3 separate regions of the Homo sapiens genome follow, and regions 2 and 3 are each linked to region 1. Evidence: fine-mapped expression QTL. A gene starts in region 1. Each other region holds a variant in brackets. All regions are shown on one strand. Distances are from middle to middle.

The links.
Region 2: its variant is fine-mapped to the expression of MMP17 in whole blood (INTERVAL, PIP 0.96).
Region 3: its variant is fine-mapped to the expression of MMP17 in whole blood (INTERVAL, PIP above 0.99).

What each region holds. Positions count from the first base shown.
Region 1 is chr12:131,823,302-131,831,474 of GRCh38, forward strand. It overlaps MMP17 (matrix metallopeptidase 17), which reads left to right and starts at 5,092. Exons shown (of 10, transcript NM_016155.7): 1 at 5,092-5,352. The coding sequence starts at 5,194. RefSeq lists silencers at 4,957-5,086, 7,076-7,335 and an enhancer at 6,819-7,428.
Region 2 is chr12:131,612,825-131,620,997 of GRCh38, forward strand. No RefSeq gene overlaps it. Among named protein-coding and RNA genes, the nearest start is that of LINC02414, 31 kb to the right of the region's middle. RefSeq lists enhancers at 4,761-5,261, 5,262-5,762. The variant C/T (reference allele first, on the strand shown) is at 4,512.
Region 3 is chr12:131,846,943-131,855,115 of GRCh38, forward strand. It overlaps MMP17 (matrix metallopeptidase 17), which reads left to right. Exons shown (of 10, transcript NM_016155.7): 9 at 2,860-3,117; 10 at 3,983-4,829. The coding sequence ends at 4,332. Among named protein-coding and RNA genes, the nearest start is that of MMP17, 23 kb to the left of the region's middle. RefSeq lists an enhancer at 4,505-4,674. The variant G/A (reference allele first, on the strand shown) is at 4,950.

The DNA of each region.
Region 1 (8,173 bases):
CTGCACTCCAGCCTGGGCAAGAGAGCAAGAACCTGTCTCACAAAAATAAATAAATAAAAAGGTGGGGATCAAATATATAAAGACAGAGAATAAAACAGTGGGCGACAGGGTGAGCCCCTTCAAAAGGGCTCGTGTGCACCTGAGGGCTGCAGAGAATAATTATGCTCCAGGCGTCTGCTAATGCATGGGTCATGGTTGCGCTGGCTGTGGGAGGAAGACAGGTGCCTGGGAGATGATGCAAAACTCACCCGTTCTGCTGTGGCCACCAATTTACTACGTATACGTACCCTACACCACCACAACGTACACCGTAAATGCACACGATAACATTTATCTTTTAAAAAGATACGTGGGGCGGGGCGCAGTGGCTCACGCCTGTAATCCCAACACTTTGGGAGGCCAAGGCGGGTGGATCACCTGAGGTCAGGAGTTCGAGACCAGCCTGACCAACGTGGAGAAACTCCGTCTCTACTAAAAATACAAAATTAGCTGGGCGTGGTGGCGCATTCCTGTAATCCCAGCTACTCGGGAGGCTGAGGCAGGAGAATCGCTTGAACCAAGGAGGCGGAGACTGCAGTGAGCTGAGATTGCACCACTGCACTCCAGCCTGGGCGACAGAGTGAGACTCCATCTCAAAAATAATTAATTAATTAATTAATTAACATTTAAAAGTCAACAACGAGGGGCTGAGGACCTCCATTGGTGGTGTTCGTGGCAGCAGGGAAGCCAGGTACCAGTGCATGAGGACTTGGAACCAGGACTTCGAAGACGCTGGGCTGAGGAGAAGACCAACCAGGCTGGGGCTGGCATAGGGTCCAGGGAGGGCCCATCTCTGAAATGGGTGACATAAGCCAAACACAGTGTTTTGTGCTCAGGCCTCTCTGCACTGGGCTTCCTGTCACTTACACCCAAAGAGCCTTGAATGGAATTCACCCTGAGCGATACAACCAGGGGCACAGCACCCCCTCCTCACTGCCTGACACGAGGGTCCTGGGTCCCCACAGGAGCAACCGTGGGCAGGGCCACCTGGGAGCTGCCCGTCAGAGTGTCTGCACCCGGATGGCTACAGACCAGGGCTGGGCACCTCTGGCTTTCCTACAACCTTCATGTCACAGCTAGGAGCCCCAAGCGTGTGTCCCACAGAGCTCCGACAATAGTGCCCGCCTGTCATTTGCCCATCTTCATGGTCCACAGACAACGCTACCTGAGTCTCCAGCCAGGGGCTGGAAATGAGCTGATGGGCCCAGCCCAGGTTTAATGCTCCAGGCATGGGGCAGCATCACTAAACCCTGGGCTGACAGGGACAAAGGTGGCTTTTCTAAAGGAAATTGCAGGGTAAGGGAGATGGATAGCAGGCAAGGCTGGATCAGGGGGCTCAGAAGATGTGATGCAACGTGTGGATGTGCACGTGGCAAACATAAATACAAGATACAGTTATTGTGGGTCTTTTCTGCTTTCTGCTTTTCTTGCTTCTCATAAATTGTTTAATTTGCTCAACAGTATGTCTGAGGCCGGGCACAGTGACTCACACCTGTAATCCCAGCACTTTGGGAGGCCGAGTTGAGTGGATCACCTGAAGTCAGGTGTGGCATTTGAGACCAGCCTGGCCAACGTGGTGAAACCCTGTCTCTACTAAAAATATAAAAAGTAGCTGGGCGTGGGGGCAGGTGCCTGTAATCCCAGCTACTCGGGAGGCTGAGGCAGGAGAATGGCTTGAATCTGGGAGGCAGAGATTGTAGTGAGCCGAGATCGCACCACTGCACTCCAGCCTGGGTGACAGAGCAAAACTCCGTCTTAAAAAAGAAAAAAATCCAGCAATATGTCTGAGTGGCCCTGCGGATACTCTTGGATCGAATCCCTTCTTCCTGGCTTCTGTCTTTGGGTCATAGCCCAGTGTTGTCAGCCCAGGGCAGCCACCAGCTTACACAGCAGCTTTGTGGGTCTTGGAAAGGTGCCTGATTCCTCATGTGCTGTGGCCCCACGGTGAGGCCATGGATCCATAAACAGGGTGCAGGTGGGACTCCAGCCCCTACCCATGCCCTTGGCCACAGCCAGCAGGACACATGGCCCTGGATCAGCCAGTCGGCCATGGGTGGGCGCGTGGGCAGTTTCTGAATTCTTTCCTATTACAAATCCCGCTGCAACACCATGCTTGCATTAGCCTTCCCGTGCAAAGACCGGAGCGTTCCTCTACAGCAGACGCCAAGAATTCTGGCCGCAGAACATGTGCTTCTTGAATCGTAATAGCTGCTACCTGGTGGCCCTCCCGAGGGGCTGTACCAGGAGCCTGAGTGCCCACTCCCCACACCCTCCTCCACAGATGATAATACGTGGTTTTTCTTTTTCCTTCCTTCCTTCCTCCCTCCCCTCTTTCTCTTTCTCTTTCTCTTTTTTTTCTCTCTCTCTCTTTCTTTCTCTCTCTCTCTTTCTTTCTTTCTCTCTCTCTCTTTCTTTCTTTCTTTTTCGTGGCAGGGTCTCGCTCTGTCTCGCCGGAATTCCTGTGCTTAAGTGATCCTTCCACTTCAGCCTCCCAAGTAGCTGGGACCACAGGCACACACCACCATGCACAGCTATTTTTATATTTTTAGTAGAAACATGGGTTTCGCCATATTCGTCAGTCTGGTCTCAAACTCCTGAGCTCAAGCGATCCGCCTGCAATTCAGCCTCCCAAAGTGCTGGGATTACAGGTGTGAGCCACCGTGCCGTCATGATTTTTCAGCGTTGCAAAGCTGATGGGAGAAGAGCGATTTCTTGCGGGGCTTGGATCTCAGCGGCTTTCAGATGTCCGAATGGGGTGGCAGGCTTGAAGGGAACACAGCAGCCATGGTGCCAGGCAGCTGCTTTGAGGAAGGTCAAATTCCCGATGTCTAACCAAGCATCTCCAGTTCACCAGCCGCCACCAGGCCTTTCTGGGGAGAACAGTGGCCTGCCTGTAAGGCCCTTCTCACATTTGTACATCCCAAGCCACTGTCGCCCAAGCTCCATAAACAAGCCATCTCCCTTCAATGCCAGCAAGCCCCGCGGTGAAGCCCCTTGCCAGCACCGAGCTACAGCCCCTCAACAGCGTCCTGTTCCAAGTCTCAGATGTGTATGAGCCCCATGATGCAGTGGGGGCACTGGCCGCGTTCCCTCTTCTGAGTCCTCGACCCAGCTTTGCCTGCCATCCACCCTCCCTTCCTCTGACTTCAGCACCTCTGATTTCCTGTAGAGAATCCCTTCCAGCCCAGGGCTTCAGCTCACTTCCCTGCCCCTGGCCCCACGATCAGGTCCTGACCCAGAATCCAGAGAGAGGTGGCCTTGGGACCATTGGTTGAGAAAGAGTCTGTCTCTGGCTGGGCCTGCTGAGGGGGAAGGATGCACAGGAGCTGCCCTGGGCCGTCTTTGCCCCACACAGAGATGGACTGAGAGAAACCGCGTTCTGACGCTGTTGCTGTGAGACTTGGTCCAGCCCTGCCTGACTTTGGCACACGCTAGGACGCCACCGTTTCCTGAGCCCATACCCATACGCTTCCTTTCCTTGACTACAGCCGCTTTGGCTGGGTCTCTGCTCTGGAAACCAGGTTGTCCTGATGCACTTGGTCAAAATCCCGGATGAGGCCAGGTGCGGTGGCTCACGCCTGTAATCCCAGCACTTTGGGAGGCCAAGGCGGGCTGATCACCTGAAGTCAGGAGTTCAAGACCAGCCTGGCCAACATGGTGAAACCCCGTCTCTACTAAAAATACAAAAATTAGCTGGGCACGGTTGTGCACGCTTGAAATCCCATCTACTCAGGAGGCTGAGACAGGAGAATCATTTGAATTTAGGAAGCAGAAATTACAGTGAGCCAAGATCGTGCCACTGCACTCCAGCCTGGGCAACAGAGCAAAAAAAAAAAAAAGAAAGAAAGAAAAAACAATCCGGGATGTCCTGTGAAAGTCCCCACCTCCTACAGGTGATCCCATCAGTCCGAACCAAGGTCATCTGAAGCAGGTGTGGAATCACCCTGTTCAGACCGGGCCAGGGAGGCTCTGAGGGCAGCAGGGACAGGATGGGCCAGAGTACCCAGGGAAGCGGGGGGGGGGGGGGGGGGGTGGTTGGGGGGAGTCGGCCCTCACAGGAGGGGAGGGGCACCACTTCCCTGAGACCAGTTCTGGTAAAAGGGGCCGAGCCTCAGTTTCCCTGTCCGTAGAATGAGACCTCAGTCCTGACAGTACCAGCTGCGATTTGGGGTGGTGGAGCAGGAGGGCCTGGGAAGGAGGGGAAGCCATGCTGTCCAGCACGAGGAGAAGCTGAATAAAGGCAAGGGTTACCCTTGAACCTCACCCCCTGCCCTCTCCCAAGATCTCCCACTCGGTGGGCAGCCTGTACGCAACTTGCACGAGTTCAATCCACACAAGCGCCTGCTCGGGCTCTGACCCTGGCTCTGCCGCTTGCCCGCTCCAGGACCTCCCATAAGTTACTTCATTTCTTTGGGCCTCAGTTTCTTTGTCTGCGAAATGGAAATCATAGTTTTCATCTCATAAATGTTGTAAGTAAATGAAATTATTTATGTAACTCCTGGGCATGTGCCAGGCACACGCTGCGCTCCAACAAACATTACAAGTTAACATTCTCGCTCCCAGGCCCGCAGGGACCGCAGAGCCTCCGCCGAGGACCCCAGCCCCCCCAACACCCGCCCTCGCCCTCCAGTCCCCCGCGCCCCCCAAGCCCCACCCTCCCTCTCCCGCGGTCCGCGGGCTCCACCAAGCGCCCACCTGCTGCGCTGCGGCGGCGGCTCCGGGGCCTGAACCCGGGTCTGAACCCGGGCCTCGGCGCCGTGGGGGGTGGACCCGGGAGCGCGGCCGGAGAGGGGAGTCAGGGTCAGCTCCCCGCAGGCGCCCCGACCCCCGCCTCCGCGCCCATCCCGCGCGTCCCCGCCGCCCCAAGAGCGTCCTAAGACACCCGGGGAAACGCCTTCCCTGTGATGCCGCGGACCCAGTCCCGTCGCGGACACGGCGGGGCGGGCGGGGGTGGCAGCGTCCGAGGCGGCGCGGGCCCTTTAAGGCGGCCGGCCTCGTTAGCATACATTTGCATGGCCCCGCCCCGCCGCTTGAGGCTGCCGCGCGGGGCTCAGTCCGGCGGGGGCGCCGCGGAGAGCGGAGGGCGCCGGGCTGCGGAACGCGAAGCGGAGGGCGCGGGACCCTGCACGCCGCCCGCGGGCCCATGTGAGCGCCATGCGGCGCCGCGCAGCCCGGGGACCCGGCCCGCCGCCCCCAGGGCCCGGACTCTCGCGGCTGCCGCTGCCGCTGCTGCTGCTGCTGGCGCTGGGGACCCGCGGGGGCTGCGCCGCGCCCGCACCCGCGCCGCGCGCCGAGGACCTCAGCCTGGGAGTGGTGAGCGCGCGGGCGGGACGGGCGCGGAGCTCCTGGGCCGGAGCCGGGGGTCTCCGCGGGCCGGGTGGCGGGGACCGGGAAGACCCCAGCAGTGCACGTCGGCGTCGCGCGGGAGCCCTGGCGCCCTGGACCCATTTCCTGGGTGGGGAGACTGAGGCAGGGACGCGGGCTGAGCGACCGGGCGAGCGCACGCGAGTCCTGGGGAGGCGCCGGCTGCCGTCCCGGCTCCGTGCGCTGGGAGCGCGCCGCAGCCGCAGGAGCCCGTGGAGTTGTGAGGGGGTCGCCCACCCGGAGCCCGGGTCGCCGGCTTGCAGCAGCCCCGGAGCAGCCGGGCTGGGCGAGAGCAGGCATCGCGGCCGCCCCGAGCTCTGCGCGCTGCGTGCGTTCCGGGTGGGAGTGGCGGGGGCAGGAGCACGCACCCACAAAGCGAGGAAGGGCAGGGGCTACGGAGTGGGGGCACCCCGAAAGCCTTGAGCCCCCGAGTTTGCTCGGTTGAGGGTGTTGGGGGCACAGGGATGCTGGCCCCCAGCTCCCCACTGGACAAGGACCTGGCCCTCAGCCTCCTTCCCCTCCACCCCAGGTCGGCCAGGCTGGCCCTGCCTTGCCCTGGTACAGTGCTGAGCCGGGGGCGCGGGGAGAGCCTTCCTCACTCCACACCCAGTAGCTGTCCCCAGCTCAGCTTAGAAACCCTGCCTGGGGGCAGCGACGTGGCCTCTTCCTACAGCCCCCTCCCCTGTTCCGCAGCCGGGACTCGCGTCTCCTGTGGACCCGGAAGATTTAGAGCACACGTCGTGGGGTCAGCGCCCCCCCGCTGGGGCGGCCGGGTGAACTCCCGCTGGGTTCGTTGGTTCCTTCTGAGGCTCCTGCCCCACCGCTGCCTTCAATGGACTCCTACCCAGGGAGTCGGGCCAGGAGCCGAGGCCTCCCCGCCCCACACAAGTACTCGGCCTGGCCCTCGTCCGCGGACAGTCTCCCAGTGGGGTCCTGGCAGGGCCCCTCGCCCAGCGCAGTGGACATTCAGGAGCTCCAAAACCTTGGGGTCCAAGCAAGTCAGCGCAGGTGTATTTCAGGCAGTCGAGGCATATGGAGGGGCCACTTGGGTGGCACCCGCAGCCCCTGTGGTTGGCAGGACTTGGCCAGGGGGTCTGGATGGGAAGCCGATTTGGCCACCGTTTGCCCCAGGCCCCGAAGCCATCTGGGAGGGTGCTGGCCACTGTCCCTGCTGCCCGCGTCCAGGTGCCTGCAGGTCCCCACAGTGGCTTCCTTCCAGCCAGGCAGCCTGTGAACTTGGGGTGCCCCCCTCCACCTCCTCAAGACCCTTTTGTAGGTGCGGATCTCCCGGATCCCCCACTGAGAATCACGCCCTGGGGGCCTGGGGTCTCCAGCTGTGGAGGGAGGTGAACCCAGGCCCGCCTTCCAGGTCCGAGGGTGCCGCAGAAGGGGCCGGGGCAATGCCAGGGAAGGACTCAAGGTGGGGCCCACACACTCAGGAGGATGGACCCCCGGCCGAGCCATGTTGGCTGATCAGACCCAGTGCGGTTTGGAAGTTTCTCGCCACCCACCTGCCCCCCTGCCCGGAGAGAGTGGGTCAGGCGCCCTCCTCTCGGCTGGTACCTGCGCCTCGGTCTCTCCTGGCACCCCGGGGGTCACCCGCCCCGCGCCCTGCGACAGCACCGAGCGGAGGATGTGGCTCCCCAGCCTGGCCGGGGGCAGTGAGTGGGGCCCCGGTGTCCAGCCGGAGAGGGAGGACGCTGCGGGCAGCCCCCTGCCTGGAGCCCCGCTCCGTGTCGGGCCCGGCCTGGCGTGGAGCCTCCGTCCTGCCGCGGCTTCCTGCTCACACTGGCGGTGCGGGGCGTCCTCTGCTGGCCCTCGGGGAACCGCGGGCCGAGCTCAGGCCCAGGGGCGGGCGGCTTCCCCGCGGGGAGGGACGAGGAGGCCGGGATCTGGGCGGGAGCGGGGACTCCTCCTCCGCCCGCTCGCCGGAGGCGCTCCCGGAGTGGACTGATATTCAGGTCTGGGCGCCAGGGACGAGAAGTGCTCCTTTGTCTCAGAGCTGCAGACAGAGCTGCACCCAGCAGGGCTGGAGCCGGGGCTGGAGGGGAGGGCCCGCCCCGGAGCGCCCCCCGTATGCACGTGAACAAGGCCGGGATTCAGGCTGCTGGGCTGCGGAGCCGGGCTTTCAGGAGCCCCCGGCGGGGACAAAAGAGCGCACTGTCCCCCCGGGGGTCCTTGGCGGGGCTGCTTGTCCTTGTGGGCCTGAGTTTTTTGTCTTTCTGTGTTTTGAGTACGACATACAGCGAGCAGCCCAGGGTCTCCACAGGCGTCCGCCTCCCTCCCGCCCCTGGTTCCTGGGCACGGATGGGACGCGGCTCTCCGTGCCTTATTTTTGCACGGTGGCACCGTGGGCCGTGCGATTGCAGCTTCGCACGCTATCTGGAGTGTCTGTGCCGGAGCCGCCCGTCTATTCACCTGGTTAAGCCAGGCTCGGCCTGCAGCCTGCTTCTGGCCAGAACTTCCCGGACTCGCGGCGAGAGTGTCTCGGGATCTGGGTCCTGGGTGGCAGTTGTGTGGTGGCAGATTTTGACAAGCTGCTCTAAAGTTTCTGCTCCATTTCTCCTCTCGGCAGCACAGCCTGTGGCTGTCATCACCGCGCCCACGGCACAGTGGCAGCTCCCTTGATCTTCTGTAGGAGGTGGGGTGGGGCGGGGCAGGTGGGGGGTACTGCTGAGGTTGTGGGATGCTGGGCCAGATGGTGCCAGGTGGCAGCCGCCCTCCATGTCCTGGCTTCTGCCGGTGGCCTCTGGGTTCCTGGCCCTCAGGA
Region 2 (8,173 bases), 210 kb before region 1:
GTCAGTCCATTTGAGCCGCTGAAACAAAACCACAGAATGGGTGGCTTAGAAACAACAGAAATTTATTTTTCACCATTCTAGAGGCTGGCAGAGTCAGCATCTGATGAGGACCACTTCCTGGTTCATGGACGACGCCTTCTGACTACATTGTTGCATGGTGGAAGGGATTGGGGGCTTCCTAGGGTCCCTTTTGGAAGGGCACTAACCCCAGAAAAAGCGCTCAGTCCTCATAATCTCATCACCTCCCAGAGTTCCCACCTCCTGACACCATCACCTTGGGGGTTAGCATTTCCACAGATGCGTCTGGGGAGATACAAGCATTCAGACCATAGCTGGGTCCCTGGTGACAGCCGCCTGGGGCCTGCTGGGTTTGAACCTCAGGGACAAGCTGGGCCCTGGACCCTCTGTAACCCAGGTTCAACGGCTCACCACTCAAAAGCCAGACATGAGGGCCAAGGGGTGGTGGGAGGGAAAGCAGCTTTCATCGGAAAGCCAACAAGCCAAGAAGATGAACTGGTGTTCTAAAGCACCATCTTAAATGTTAAAATGTGCCACGGGGAGCTGGGAAACGTGACACGGGAGCCACGCGGGGTGCAGGGCCTGTGTGTCTCACCCCAGTGGCTGTCTTGGGTGGACGGAGGTCTGGATGGTGCCATGTTGACTTGGGCCCGGTGGTGGTGGACGTTGGTCATGACTTCCCCTAAGCAGCAGAGTCCACAATGGGGGCTCAGTGCCCGGTTTGTTTTGAGATCAGCCTCTGCAATTTCTTAAGCAAGAATCTAATTAGATGAGTGTGCATTGCTACAGGGGAGTGTCCGGAGAGGGAAGGAATCGGAGTGAGAGGAGAGGGAGGGAAGAAAAAGAGAGTATGTGATTTTTAAAACTGAGGTCCCTGGTGTTAAATTAAGTTTAGCCTAAAGCTGCCTCCTTACATATTTTAAGTTCAGCCTAAAGGTTTCTCTGTACATAGAGAACTGAAACCTAAGTGGATGTGTAAACAGACTACCCTACTCTCGTGCCAGCCACTGAGGTCTGCAAATGCCCAGCTGCAGCCAACCCGGCGGGCTCCGTCCCAGCCGCAGCCGACCCGGCGGGCTCCGTCCCAGCTGTAGCCGACCCGGTGGGTTCTGTCCCAGCTGCAGCCGACCCAGCGTGTTCTGTCCTCACTCCCTTTTCTGTGGTCATTTTCCTTTTTCTCTGTCCATAAATCTTCCACCATGTGGCTGCCTTGGAGCCTCTGAGCCTACTCTGGCTCTGGACATGACCCAATTCGCAACTTGTTCTTTGCTCAATTAAACTTTGTTAAATTTAATTTGTCTAAGGTTTTTCTTTTGACACTAGTTACACTTCCATGCAGAGAGGCTGCCTGTGTTACCTCCAGACCAAGTGAGAACATCACCCTCCAGCAGCAGCAGGCCTCTCATCCATGGGTGACTTGGTCTGGGAAGCCATGTGTTCACTGCTGACCTCTGTCAACCAAAAATAAAATTCTAAGGCCCCCAACCAACTAATGGACCCCCCATCTCAGCCACAGGCATTCCAAAGTAAACCTAAAACAGTGATTCAGGCCCTGATGGGAAGGGGGTTCAGACATGCTTCATGATACCCTCCTCCCTTGGCATTTCTGGCGCAACTGGCCAGCGTTAACATTAAAACAGATTTTTAAGACTGACCAAAGAGACTCTTTGTAGCAATAAGATACCAAACTCCAGGCCGGGTGCGGTGGCTCACGCCTGTAATCCCAGCACTTTGGGGGGCCGAGGCAGGCAGATCACAAGGTCAGGAGATCTCTACTAAAAATACAAAAAAATTAGCCAGGCATGGTGGCCGGTGCCTGTAATCCCAGCTACTTGGGAGGCTGAGGCAGGAGAATTGTTTGAACTCAGGAGGCAGAGCTTGTAGTGAGCCAAGATCATGCCACCCACTCCAGCCTGGGCAACAGAGTGAGACTCCGTCTCAAAAAAAAAAAAAAAAAAAAGATACCAAATTCCAACCCGAATCTAGTAAATTGTCACATGAGAGATAGCAGGCCCTGAAAGAAATCTAAGTATTTTACCCAAAAATCTGTTTATTTATTTCTGGAATGGCCCTGCACAGCTGTCTCTTGTGGGGGAAATTTGCATTCTGTAGAGAATCCCGTGCCCTTTCCAGGTCTTTTCCAGAGTCTAGCATCTTTTAAAGGTCTGAATAGGAAACATTTGCCACCTTTTTCCTCTAAGGGTGGTCATCTGAGAGACTTATCTACGTAATAAGAACCTTGGTCTCCACAGCCTCTCATCTCAACCCATACATTCCTCTCTATTGATTCCAAGTCCTTCAATAATAACCTCACTCTTTCAACCAAGTGCCAATCAGAAAATCTTTGAACCCATCTATGACCTACTATAGCCGCCCCCAACCCTGCTTCCAGTTGTCCCACCTTTCAGACTAAACCAATGTACACCTCACATGTATTAATTGATGTCTTATGTCTACCTAAAACGTATAAAACCAAGCTGCAACCCAGCCTCCTCGGGTACATGTTCTCAGGACCTCCTGAGGCTGTGTCATAGGTCATGGTCCTCACATTTGGCCCAGAATACATCTCTTCAAATATTTTAGAGTTTGGCATTTCTCATCAACACCTCTGAGCCTCCTAGAAGAAGCCGCCCCGTGCACTCCTGAGGTCTGAGCTGTTGCCTGAGCCCACAGGCAGAGCCATCTGCACCAGCAGAGAACTGCAGAGAATGCTGGAGGAATTTAAAATATGTAACCCCAAAATACATTTGCTTGACATAATTTGAAACAGCTGCCACAGGCCCCTGTAGAGAATCTCCATTAATGCAGCCAGGCCCCCTCTACTTTCTGTACCTTTCCCAGATTTGGGAGAGATTGAGAGTCTGACACTGTTAAGAGTCTGAAAAGAAACACTTCCCGTCTATCCTCTCCAAGGGAGGCTTCACCTCCATAACAAGGCTGCCTGTGCTAGCCAAGCCTCTTCCTTTCTCCCGCTGTTTCCCTGTCTTGCCACTGAGCCTGACTTTGCAGCATGACCTGTTTCTGGCAGTGCTTAGAGTCCTCAGCCTTCCTTGCTGTGCCTCAGGATGGTGTGGAAGCTTCCGTACCTCATCATTGGGTTGGATCTTCATTCTGAAGGCTCCCAGGCACACATGGTCAGTAAATAAATGTGTGTGCTTTTCTCCTCTTACTCAATCTGCCTCATGTCACTGACTTTCCAGTGAACGATTAGGGAACCAAGAGCCTGTGGTCCCACAACACCCCTTTGTCATAAGTGTGGGCTCTGCAAGCCACCCCCAGGCTTCCCCAGATGTCAGGTGAATTAAATGAAGCTCATGGCGGCCCTTACTCCCAACGCTGTCCTCAGAGAGGGCGTCTGGGGCCTGCAGACCCACTGACAGCTGAGAGGGCACGCTGTGCTCCTGGCCACCTTCTCAGCCCCCTCCAAAGCCCACCTGGCCTCACTCTTGTATGTCAGCATCTCCCTGCCTGGCAAATGAGTGAAGTCACTGATAAAACAGTTTCATTAATAATTGTCCATTTCCCAGGAGCTTTTTTTTAAATATATTTTTCCTCCCTGAAAGCCTTAAGATAAATGGCACGTCGACTGTGCCGGCTCCCGCTCCAGGGCTCTTTGTTAGGAGCGGGGCTGTTTATCAACCGCCAGTCACCCCAGCCCGGCACAGCAGGGAACAGCGGCTTCTCCCCACCATGTGCTCTGTCCAGGCTGCCCCCTTTCAGCTCAGAACGATGGAACGTGTGTTTCTGCCCCGCGTCAGTGTGGGCTCCGTTCACCAGAAACCCCCCAGGTTCACAGTAGCCGGGAAACAGACCTTGGTATAGCTCTCATGCTACTCATGGGTGCATAACTGGAGTCATAAACAACTCCTTTGTGAGGAGACACGGACCCATCCAGGGCCCTCATGGCTGCTGAACCTGCATCGGCCCAAACCAAACTCGTGATTCCTCCAAAACTTCTGTCCTTCTGCCTTCCCTCCAGAGAAGGTGGCGCCAACCTCCTCTGTGGCTCAAGCCTCCCAAACAGAAGTCACAAGGCCCCGTTCCGCTCCTGGATCCCGCCCTGTCCACCTCCCAGCCAGGAGTCATGAGGCCCGGTCCTGCTCCTGGATCCCACCCTGTCCGCCTCCCAGGACACAGGCTCCTCAGATGTGTCCTGCCCTTCTTGTTCCTCTGTTTCTCATGCCGGGCATGGCACGTGGCATGCAGTAGGTACTCAGTAAATACATTTTAGTGAAATGATGAATCCCCTAGGTTAGAAACTCGTCTAAGTTGTGAGGAGCTTTATTGGAAATCCCATAGGAAGGAGCTCGCTCTGTCCTGGGGGAAGGGGAGGTCTCCACATGGAGCCAGGCACCAGCCCCCTTGCACAGTGGCTCAAATAAACCTTCAGGGCCCTGGAGGCTCCCACTGCCAAGACCCTGGAGTGTCTTCCAGCCTCTGGCTGATGTCCTGCTCGTCCACCTGCGTACCCGGCTCCTTCCATGGAAAGCTCC[C/T]GAATGCACGGCCTGGAGTGGGCTTTCTCCTGACCAGCGAGCCACTTCCTTCGTCGGACAGAGCACCATGCGGAGTGGAGATTAGAGTGGAGGCAGGCAGGAGAGGGCTGAGGCTGCAGTGTGGTCTCTGGCTGCACCCCGGGACTGTCGGCTGAGGACCACAGCAGTCCCGCTTGCCTGAGAGCTCCGAGTATGTCCTGGGAATGGAGGCGACTGGGGCGGGAAGAGGAGAGTTTGTTTGGGAGCCTCATAGCTTTAAAGACACTGTTGACATCCTATGGTGTTGGCTACGTGGAGGAGTCGGGTCCGAGACTGTGAGGATGAGGGGGTCCAAGTGCCATGTCCTGGGAGCAGCTACCTGGGGGCTCACGGGATCCTTTGCAGGGGGCCGGGGCCTCCCCTTACTTTCTCGCCAGCACCGATGCCCTTGTTTCTGATATCAGCCCAGGGATCCCCCCGTGCCCCTGGTCTCTGAAGTTCAGGTAGGGCTCAGGCTACCCTGTGTACCCTCACACCATGGCAGGCACGTGTTCCAGGACAGGCAGTCGGAGTTACAGTGGCCAGGGCGAGGGAGCCACCCTCCAGGCACGCAGGGAGCCAGGCTTGTCCTGTGCACCCTCCCAGCTCTGGGTCCTGTCCCTCAGGGCCTCTGATTTGCTGGGCCGTTTGTGCTGCTGTGACTATTTGGTGGGCCCAAGTATGCTGGAGAAATTCTGGATGCCATCCATGACTAATAACCGGGCAGTGCACTTGCAGGATGCAGCAGCTCCTGGTGCCACGGCCGCCTCCCACACCAGCCCCTGGGGAGTGGAGAGGCCTCCGGGTGTTGCTTCTGCACGTGCTGTTCATGGACATGTGGCCTGGAAAGCAATTCAGGTTTGCTCTTGGTGAGCCTCGGAAGCTCCAGGCGGCCGCTAGAGTCTCAGACGTCGCCACCCACAGACCTCTTGGGTTTTGCCATCTTGGCATAAACAGCCTCGGTCCCGACCCCTGCCCTTTATTAAGCCCTCTTCAGTTAACCCGTCGTGTCCCTTCTGACTGCTGGGGGACTCCCTCAGATACAAGCTGTCTCCTCCACTGGAAGGTGAATGCCGTGAGCGCGGGGCCCTGGTTCAGCACCAGAGACAGCGCTGGCACCTCAAGAGACTCAGTGACATTTGCTGAATGAGTGAATGGACAAACGATGCTTCAACTGCGCAGATGCCATCCGCTCTTTCAGGAGCCTGGTCTTCCCACTTTAGCGACCATCTGAATCACGTGGGAGGCTGCAGAGACGCAAGAACCTGGGTCTCTCACACTCCATATTCTGATCCCAGGGTCTGGGCTGGGACCTAGGAATTTGCATTTTTACCTAGGCTCTCATACAGGCTTCTAATCTGATAGATAAAGTCTTCAGGAAGTCAGCCTCTGATAGACAAGTGCTATCCTCGGAAAACAGCATACACAAAGCTGAAAATAATTTCCCTTTCTGCCTCCTCCAAGGCTCAAGGCTTCTGAGAAACTGCTCGAAATTTTCTCAAAATGCATGCTCTATTTTCCACTCTCCTCCCCTCTCTGCATTCCATTCAGCCATCCCAAGAGGACCCACATGAGTCGCTGCTCCTTCGTTTCCTTATTCTGGAAACTCCTAAGACATCCTCTCTACACTGATGATTTTGCAGAGCGAAGGAGAAACAATAAACATCTTCCAGAAAGAATTTCTCAGTGACTGCAAACAAGGAGTGAGATTTGCATTCGGGGGGGCTGTTTGCCCTCAATGTGGGGAGTCGGCAGTGTCAGAACTTGGCAGTGACCCTGAAGACGTGGACAGGAGCAGATGGGATGTTTGACTTCACCTCCCTTTTGCTCCCCGATGCATTTCAGTGCAGGCCTGGTGTGCTGCACCAGCTGCGTGACAGAGGAGGAGACGAGGAGGAGGTTCTTGGGCACAGGAGGAGCGGGGCTGGGGTGAAAGCAGCCAGCCAAATGCAGGGGGTGCACTCAGCGGGGGAACCCAAAGTGTGTGGAGAAGAAAACAAAGTGCTCTCCAGGACCAGCCCTGCCCACGGCCTCCTGGCCCTCAGGGGGACTCACAGAACTGGCTCAACAGGTGCACACAGATGTGCACACACATGGGCACACAATGCATATACACATATGCATGCACACACAGAGACCCACGCACGCAGACCCAGACATACATACATGAATGCATATGTGCAGACACGTGCATGCACACAGACACACACACACACACACACGCACACAGTACTGGAATCACCACAACCAACATGCCACCTGCTTAATCCTGTTCGAAAGGACTTTCCTTGGCCTCAAGTTTTTCCACACCTGCCACACTCTGCAAACCTCCAAGAAGCCAGACCCCCCACAATTGGACAATGTCTGGTTCCTCACAGGAAGCTGCCATCACACATCTGGACAGCAGTGGGGCTCACCTTCTGGGAAAGCCTGCTCTCCTGCTGCAGGGGGAGGACTCACCAGACCCCAGAGTGGGAGTGTAGGATCGTGAATGCTGCAGAGCCCACATAGTCTGATATCCCGGCGGAGCAGGATCTGCTTCCTGGCTGGTGCAGCCACTGCCCAGCTCTCCTCTGCCCCTGCTCCACATGTGTGTCATCTGGGCTGTCTTGGAGGCAAGTGACAGAAAGGGGGCTTCACCAACGCCCTCACCTGAGCACCCTAAGAAGGGGCTGGCAGCATCAGGACAGGCCCAGGCTCAACCCTGCCCTCAGACAGAAAGCAGCTCAGCGGTTCCCCAGCTCAGACTCCGCAGCCAAACTCAATGTTCAAGACCCAGCTCTCCCACTTTCAAGCAGTGTGGCTTTGGTGGCATTGCTTAACCTTTCTGGGTCCCGCTCTCCCCGTCTGTGAAACGATCATGGTGAGGTGCCGTGGGGCTCTGATGAGGTTGCCCACGCCAGTACACACACAGCAGGACTTTGTGGATGGCTGGCACCGCCCGGGCGTCACCCTCACCCGGCCCTGGCCGTCAGCTCACCATCCTCATCTCAGGCCCCCTCCTGTGCGGCGGCAGAGACAGGGCTGCACGCGGCTTCCATGGGCCCTGGGCCCTTTTGCATTCGTGGGCTCCTTCCTCCATAAAATCACCTTTAAGCTTCTATTTTACAACTGGTACAAAGATGAATAGGTTAATATTTCTTTGACCTAAGAGCTCATATTTTCTTCTAATTTTAAAAGAAATTAAAACATTTTTGTAGCCCTGGAAATCCTCAGGGCTCTTGCACTTTGCCTGTGTCCCTGATGGGGGAAGGCGGCCTGGAAATGGCCCTCAGAGAGCTCCTCTTAACTGAGCAACTGCGAGGCAAAGCCTCCCTTCCCCAGGGGTTTCAGAAAAAGTCCCGGGCACATTCTCATTGGACCAGCTTGGGTCACATGGCCATGCCTGAGCCAATCCCAGGACCACAGTATGAAATATGCTGATTGGGAGGCGTGGCTTCCCACCTGTGAATCACGTGCACCAAGTAGGGGTGACCTGGCAGAGAAATACAGAGACAGGCAGGTGAGTCCTGGACGGACCCTAGGGACATCTGTTGTCCCCCTCAGGACCACATAGCAGAGCATGATACGGTGCCTGTCCACAGCCCAGGGACCCTTTTCAGCGGGTGGCAGAGCTGGCTATCCGGGGAGGGGGCAGAAGTTCC
Region 3 (8,173 bases), 24 kb after region 1:
GCCCTCCGGTGACTGTTCCCGGAGGCCTGATCCCTCCTGAAGGGACAGAGGCTGCAGCTACCTGGGAGGCTGAGGCAGGAGGACCACCTGAGCCAGAAGGTCAAGGCTGCACTGCACCATGATCGTGCACTGCACTCCAGCCTGGGCGACAGAGCAAGACCTTGTCTAAAAAAAAAAAAAAACCAAAATGTCACGCGCAGTGGCTCACGCCTGCAATCCCAGCATTTTGGGAGGCCGAGGCGGGCAGATTACAAGGTCAGGAAATCGAGACCATCCTGGTTAACACGGTGAAACCCCGTCTCTACTACAAAATACAAAAAATTTGCCGGGCGTGGTGGCGGGCACCTGTTGTTCCAGCTACTCGGGAGGCTGAGGCAGGAGAATGGCGTGAACCTGGGAGGCGGAGTTTGCAGTGAGGTGAGATCACACCACTGGACTCCAGCCTGGGTGACAGAGCGAGACTCCGTCTCAAAAAAAAAAAAAAAAAATCCCCAAAGACAGTACCTGGACTAAAAAAGAAAAAAGAAAATTACTTGCAAACCTCATGACCAATTGCTCCTAACCTCCCCTAGGCCACCTTGCCAAAGGCCCCAGGGTGCCCTGTAGAGCCTCCCCGAGCAGGATCCCATCACGTGCGGCTCCCCTGCCTTGCACACATTAGAAGTGTTCAGGCCGCTTCCCCCAGGTGGACCCGTCTGGCATCTCCTCCAGATCAGGTTCTGGTTTTGCACATCTGGCAGGAATGCCACCGAGGGCAGGTGTTCTGAGCCCCGAGCCGCCCTGCCTGGTGATGTTCGCTGTGGTCACCTGGATGAGGTGTGTCTGCAGGTTTCGCTACCATAAAGCCCCATTTCTGGGTGTGAGGGGTTGGTCACCTGCCAGGAGAGACTTGAGAACATGTGGGTCTCTTGCCACAGGCCGTCTCACCCCTGCTCCCCCTCTGTCCCCTGTGTCGCCTGCCCCTGCCTGGTTCCCTACCAGGCGCATCTGTCCTGGTTCCTGCTCAGCCATAGCAGGGCAGGGCCCATTGGTCCTCCCATCATCTCCTTAATCCCTCCCCCTATTTACAGACATCACAGCCCTTTCCAGTCTCCAGCAAAGGACTTTTTCTGGTCTTTTTATATTATTTTTATTTTTAATTTTATTTTACTGTATTTTTTTGAGACAGAGTCTCACTCTATCACCCAGGCTGCAGTGCAGTGGTGTGATCTCAGCTCACTGCGGCCTCGACCTCCCAGGTTCAAGCAGTTCTCCTGCCTTAGGCTCCTGAGTAGCTGAGACTACAGGCGCTCACCACCGTGCCTGGCAAATTTTTTGTATTTTTGGTAGAGACAGGGTTCACCGTGTTGGTCAGGCTGATCTCAAACTCCCGACCTCAGGTGATCCACCCACCTTGGCCTCCCAAAGTGCTGGGATTACAGGCATGAGCCACCACTCCCGGTCTGGTTTTTTGGTCGTTTTAAATTGTGGGCGTGGTGAGCACACTTTACTATTTCAGCCATTTTGAAGCCACAGCTCGGTGGCATGAAGCACGTTCACGTTGCTGTGCAGCTGTCACCTGCGTCCACCTCCCGAAGATTTCCACCTTCCCAAACGGAAACGCTGCCCCGTGAAACACGGATGCCCCGCCCCGCCCCTGGGCAGCCCCGCCCCTCCCCTGGGCACCCCCACTTCGCTTGCTGTCCCCATGGCTCTGAGTGTTCCAGGGACCCCATGTCAGTGGGACAGACAGGATCTGCCCCTCTGTGCCTGGCTCGTGTCACTCAGCGGAAGGTCCTCGGGGCTCATACACGCGGTGGCACGTGGCAGGATTTCCTTCCTGGCTGAGGCTGAGCGGCATTCCATGGCACGGACGGACTGCACCTCGTTCGCCTGCTCACTTGGGTTTCCTCTACTCTGGGCTCCTGTGAAGGACGCTGCTATGAGCGTGAGTGTGCAAACGTCTCTCCAAGACCCTGCTTTCGGTTCTTTTGGATTTATACCCAGAAGCGGGAATGCTGGATCACGTGGTAATTCTATTTTTGACGTTTTGGGGAGCCTATGTTCTGTCTCCCGCAGCGGCTGCACAATTTCATACTCCCTCCCCGGCAGCGCCCGGCTCTGCCGTCCCCATATCCTCCCGACACAGGTGACTTTCCACGTTCTTGACAGTGGGGGCGAGGGGGCGTCTCATTGTGGTTTTGAGGGCGTTTCTAGTGACGTTGACCATCTTCAAGTGCTCAATGCCATCTATATTTCTTGGGAGAAAAGTGTATTTAACGCAGGGCACGGTGGCTCACACCTGTAATCCCAGCACTTTGGGAGGCCAGGGCGGGCAAATCACCTGAGGTCAGGAGTTCGAGACCAGCCTGGCCAACATGGTGAAACCCCGTCTCTACTAAAAATACAAAAATTAGCTGGGTGTGGTGGTGGGCGCCTGTAATCCCAGCTACGCGGGAGGCTGAGGCATGAGAATCGCTTGAACCCAGGGGCGGAGGTTGCAGTGAACCGAGATCAAGTCACTGCACTCCAGCCTGGGTGACACAGCAAGACTCCGTCTCAAAAAATAATGATCATAATAATAATAGGATGGCATGTCGTGGGCCTCGGTTTGGCCCGAGTTGTTGTTTCCATCGGTAAAGGGGTGGCCGGCAGCGTCCACAGGCTGGATGGGATGGCCCGGACTGGGCACAGTAGGTGCTCACTAAGTATCCATGTGGCCCCTGTGATGTGGGGTGATTGCAGTGTGGCCGCTGTCCCATCAAGCCCAGGTGAGGGGCCAGGGCAAGGGCGGCTGACACAGGAGAAGGAAAGGCAGGAGCCTCCTGCCCTTCGGGGTGGGGCCGAGCCCCGGCCCACAGCTGTTTCTCTCGCCCCCAGGAGACAGGTACTGGGTGTTCAAGGACAATAACGTAGAGGAAGGATACCCGCGCCCCGTCTCCGACTTCAGCCTCCCGCCTGGCGGCATCGACGCTGCCTTCTCCTGGGCCCACAATGACAGGACTTATTTCTTTAAGGACCAGCTGTACTGGCGCTACGATGACCACACGAGGCACATGGACCCCGGCTACCCCGCCCAGAGCCCCCTGTGGAGGGGTGTCCCCAGCACGCTGGACGACGCCATGCGCTGGTCCGACGGTGAGTGCCAGCTGGGGGGACGGGCCATGCGGCCTTGGTTTCCCCACCAGGAGAGGGGCATCACTACAGGGCAGCCAAGAGGTTCCCTGAAAGGAGGACGGCCCCGGTCGGTGTGGGCTCTGAGGGTCCCAGCCCCTCGCCTGGAGCTGCCGACCCTGCAGGCGTCCCCGAGTCGCTCCCCGAAGGCCTGGCCCACGAGCTGCCCTTGTTCTCCCCGCCCTCAGCACTCCCTCGCCCCTGCTGCTCCCCCAGCCACGCTCCTGCCCCAGGGCCTTGGCACTGGCCATGCCTCGTCTGGGCACACTTTCCTGAGATGTCCACACAGCCCCTCCCTCGCCGGCCCCAGCCCTGCCAAACGCCCTCCTGGGCATCACCCCTGCCACGTCCCACAGTGTAGAAGAAACCTCCCCACAGGGTCAGCTCCAGGGACGGCAGCATCCTCTGTTTTGTTTTCAACGCTGCATCCTTGTCACCTGGAACAGCCCTGCACAGAGTGGGCCCTCAATAAATATCCAGTAAGGGAAAGAGACTCTGAGGGTCTCCTGGTCCATCCCCTGCCCCAGCAGGCTCCTCTGGAGCTTCCCAGGCCTGTGACCATGCCTGCAGAGCTGCCCACAGCTGAGCAGATGCTGACCCCATCTCAGATATTATCTGGGCACCCCCTGCCATCTAGCACGAGCCGCCCCCCACCAGCCGTCTGGTCTGACCCCCCACTGCAGTCTTGTGCAAGCCCCCTGCTGTCTGGCCCGACTCGAGCCCCTTCCGCTGCAGCCCTCCCTGAGCCCAACGCTCCCTCCTCGCTGTCCGGCTCGAGCCCCTCCTGCTGCAGCCCTCCCCTGAGCTCAGCTCTCCCTCCTCTTCTCAGGTGCCTCCTACTTCTTCCGTGGCCAGGAGTACTGGAAAGTGCTGGATGGCGAGCTGGAGGTGGCACCCGGGTACCCACAGTCCACGGCCCGGGACTGGCTGGTGTGTGGAGACTCACAGGCCGATGGATCTGTGGCTGCGGGCGTGGACGCGGCAGAGGGGCCCCGCGCCCCTCCAGGACAACATGACCAGAGCCGCTCGGAGGACGGTTACGAGGTCTGCTCATGCACCTCTGGGGCATCCTCTCCCCCGGGGGCCCCAGGCCCACTGGTGGCTGCCACCATGCTGCTGCTGCTGCCGCCACTGTCACCAGGCGCCCTGTGGACAGCGGCCCAGGCCCTGACGCTATGACACACAGCGCGAGCCCATGAGAGGACAGAGGCGGTGGGACAGCCTGGCCACAGAGGGCAAGGACTGTGCCGGAGTCCCTGGGGGAGGTGCTGGCGCGGGATGAGGACGGGCCACCCTGGCACCGGAAGGCCAGCAGAGGGCACTGTCCGCCAGGGCTGGGCAGGCTCAGGTGGCAAGGACGGAGCTGTCCCCTAGTGAGGGACTGTGTTGACTGACGAGCCGAGGGGTGGCCGCTCCAGAAGGGTGCCCAGTCAGGCCGCACCGCCGCCAGCCTCCTCCGGCCCTGGAGGGAGCATCTCGGGCTGGGGGCCCACCCCTCTCTGTGCCGGCGCCACCAACCCCACCCACACTGCTGCCTGGTGCTCCCGCCGGCCCACAGGGCCTCCGTCCCCAGGTCCCCAGTGGGGCAGCCCTCCCCACAGACGAGCCCCCCACATGGTGCCGCGGCACGTCCCCCCTGTGACGCGTTCCAGACCAACATGACCTCTCCCTGCTTTCTAGCGGCTCGGCTGGGCTCCCTGGTGCTCCAGGGCCATGGGAGTGGGTACCCTCGGGCCTCAAGGGGCTTGACCCTGACCAGGGGCCCACGCACCTGCACTTGGGGTGGGGGCTTCCCA[G/A]GAGGTCTCGGCAGTCGCATTCCTCCTTGTTCATCAGCCCGTCCCGCGCTGTCTCTTCCAGTCCTCGTGCCCCGAGGAGTCCCCACGCCCCTGTCACAGATGGGAGAGTTGAGGCCCAGCGGGGGATGAGCCTCAGTGCTACAGGCAGGGGCATCACGGGCGGGCGGGGCGCCAGCTGGCCCAGTGAGATCTGAGTGTGGGAGGTGCCCGAGGAAAGGCATCAGTTGTTGGGTGAGCCACTTGGGACGCTGTCTGCCCCGCAGCACTAGACCATGATGCCCGGCCGAGCACCGGGACCTGGGTGCGCCCAAGAGGGAGGGTAGGTGCTCCCTGCGCAAGAGGGAGGGAGGGTGCTCCCTGCAAGGGGCTGATTCTAGCTCCAGCCACTCTGTCACTTGCTCCCTTTGCTCCCAGCCTCCAGATCCACAGCGGAGTCCCTCAGCCTGCCCCCACTCTGGCCGGCGAGTGACGCGTCTGTCCTGCAGTACCCTCTTGTTCAGAGGGTGCAGCCGATGCCACTCTGCAGGGCCCAGTCCTCCCGCTGGTGCACAGTCCTCTGGTCTCTGCGGCACAGACGCACCCCGGGCCACAGGTTCGGGGCCTCAGGCTCTGGCTCACCAGCATCTGCCCTGGGCTGTGGAGGGCCCGGGTGCCCCCTCAAACGTGACTCAGTGAGGATGAGGAGGTGGCCGTTGGACTGTGGGGGATTCACTCCCACATAGCAGGAAGTTCCTGACCACAGGCCCAGCATAGGGAGCGGCTGGGGCCACCCAGGGTGCAGATGAGGCTTCCTGGCACCCAGGAGCCAAAGCCCACAGCCCCCTTGTCCCATCCCAGGGATGGCACCCATCCCAGGATGAGGCTGCCAGGGCCGGGCAGGCAGGCCCCAGGCCAGGCCTCATGGAGCCGGGCCACCTCCCCGTGAAGAGAGGCCACATCCTCATGGAGTCCAGCCGTGTCCTCTGTCCCCCGCCTGTTCACCATCTGCTCCCTGGAGCAGGAGGAGTCCCTGCCTGTCAGACCAGTCTGTGGAAAGACCGACCTCCCTCCTGTCTGTCGGGGACACTGGCTCTGCCCTGCACCAAGTGGTGTTTCCTCATCACGCTTTGTTGCCCAGCAGCCTGTGGGGTGAATTCCCCCGTGCAGCTGGCCCAGCCCCGTGGTCCCCACGTCCTGGGTCGTGCCCCAGTGCAAAGCCGGCTGTGGGCCTTGTCTGCTGAGTCGGGCTCTCACGTTGGCAGGGCTCACTGCGGTTTTGAAGTCCAAACTCTCCGTCATAAGCCTCTTCTGCCGGTCCTATCTCTGGTGAAGAGGTGAACCGTAGGCGGGGCAGGGGGGCTGCTCTGAACTTGCCTCTCCATGCTGCAGCCCACCTCCCTCTGGCAGTGGGGTGGCCGTGCTGGGTCCTGGGGCAGGGCCTGGAGCCCCGCCAGCCCATGACGCATTTCATGAGCCCCCACCTTTTGATATGCACATGCAGCTGAGGCTACCCTGACCCCACATTCAAAGTCGGAAATCCCCAAAACCCAAGACCTTTTGAGCACTGATGGGCTCGGGGTGCACACAGAACATTTGGGATTTCACTTTTTTTTTTTTTTTTTTTTTTTTTGAGACAGAGCCTGTCGCCCAGGCTGGAGTGCAGTGGTGAGATCTCAGCTCACTGCAACCTCCGCCACCCAGATTCAAGTGATTCTCCTGCCTCAGCCTCCCGAGTAGCTGGGATTACAGGCAGGCACCACCACGCCTGGCTAATTTTTGTATTTTTAGTAAAGACAGGGTTTCAGCATGTTGGTCAGGCTGGTCTCGAACTCCTGACCTCAGGTGATCCACCCGCCTCAGCCTCCCTGAGGTGAGGCTAGGATTACAGGCATGAGCCAACACACCTGGCCAAGTGGCAGTATTTGAAAAAAGAAAAGCAGAGAAAAATGCTCAACCTGTAAGTATAATGCAAATATAGTGTCCAAACTCCAAACAATCTGAGCTCCAAAACACTTTTCTGGTCCTGCGCGTCTCGGATGAGGAACACGCGGGCAGGGCGTGTTGTTTTGTGGAAAGGATCTCATGTTCATAGAAAGCTGCACCCGCAGCATGAGAGTCCTCTGCATCCTTTGGGAGGCGCTGACCACCCTGAGCTCGCTTCTGTGTCTCCTGGAACGCAGGTGTCCTCCCAAGGTCAGAGTTGGGAAAGACACGCAGCCAGTGGATCTCAGATCAGAGGATGCTGCAGGGACAGACCTCACCCAGGGCAGCCTTCTTTGGCCCGGCACAGCTCCCGGGCCTTCCCCGACCCCTGTGACCTCGCACCTATGAGGGCTGCCGGCCCGTCCTTCTGTGGTCCATGCCCCCGGCCTGTCCGCCTGCACCTTCCTCGTGATGGGACCTCGGTTCTGTGTCTTCAGCAGGCAGTTTTCCATCTTCGCCTGAGTCACCATCTAAACACCTGGAGACTTCACGTGACGTTCTGGATTTTCAGAGTCACTGCTTATACCTCAGGCTGTGCTGGCCCAACTTGGAGAAGCTGTGCCCCCAGGCCCAGGAGGCAGGGCATCGCCAGCCCACAGCCACAGTCAAAACCCTCCGAAGGAGGTCAGAGGACCCACGCCACCCCAGTGAGGGGCAAGGACCTCTTCCCTTCTTCCTTCCACCCCAGGGAGGTCAGCCTGGAGGCCCAGGGTCTCTCTTGAGCCACACGGCCGGGCCAAGGCACTGGCTGCCCTTAGCGTGACCCAGGCTTTTGACCAAAAACACACAGCCCCATGGGTGCTATACAACGCCTCTGCATGGGAGACCTCCGAGGCCAGGACACACCCTCTCCAGCTCCCATGATACAGGAAGGGAAACTGAGGCACGGTGTCTTAGCTCAGCTTGCCGTGACAGGCTGCTGTAGACCATGCGGCTTCCACATGGGTGACCTCTGAGGCCAGGACACACCCTCTCCAGCTGCCGTGTTACAGGGAGGGAAACTGAGGCACGGTGTCTTAGCTCAGCTTGCCGTGACAGGCTGCTATAGACTGTGCGGCTTCCACACAGGCATTTGCTTTCCCACCAATCTGCAGGAGTCTGAGGTCAGGATGCCGGCAGGGTCAGGTTCTTAGAGGCCCGCTTCCTGGTTCAAAGCCAGCACCTTCTCACTGTGTCCTCACAAGCCCGAGAGAGAAAGTGCTGGTCCCTTCACCCCCTACCAGGGCACCAATCTCATTGTGGGGGCTCCGCCCTCACGACCT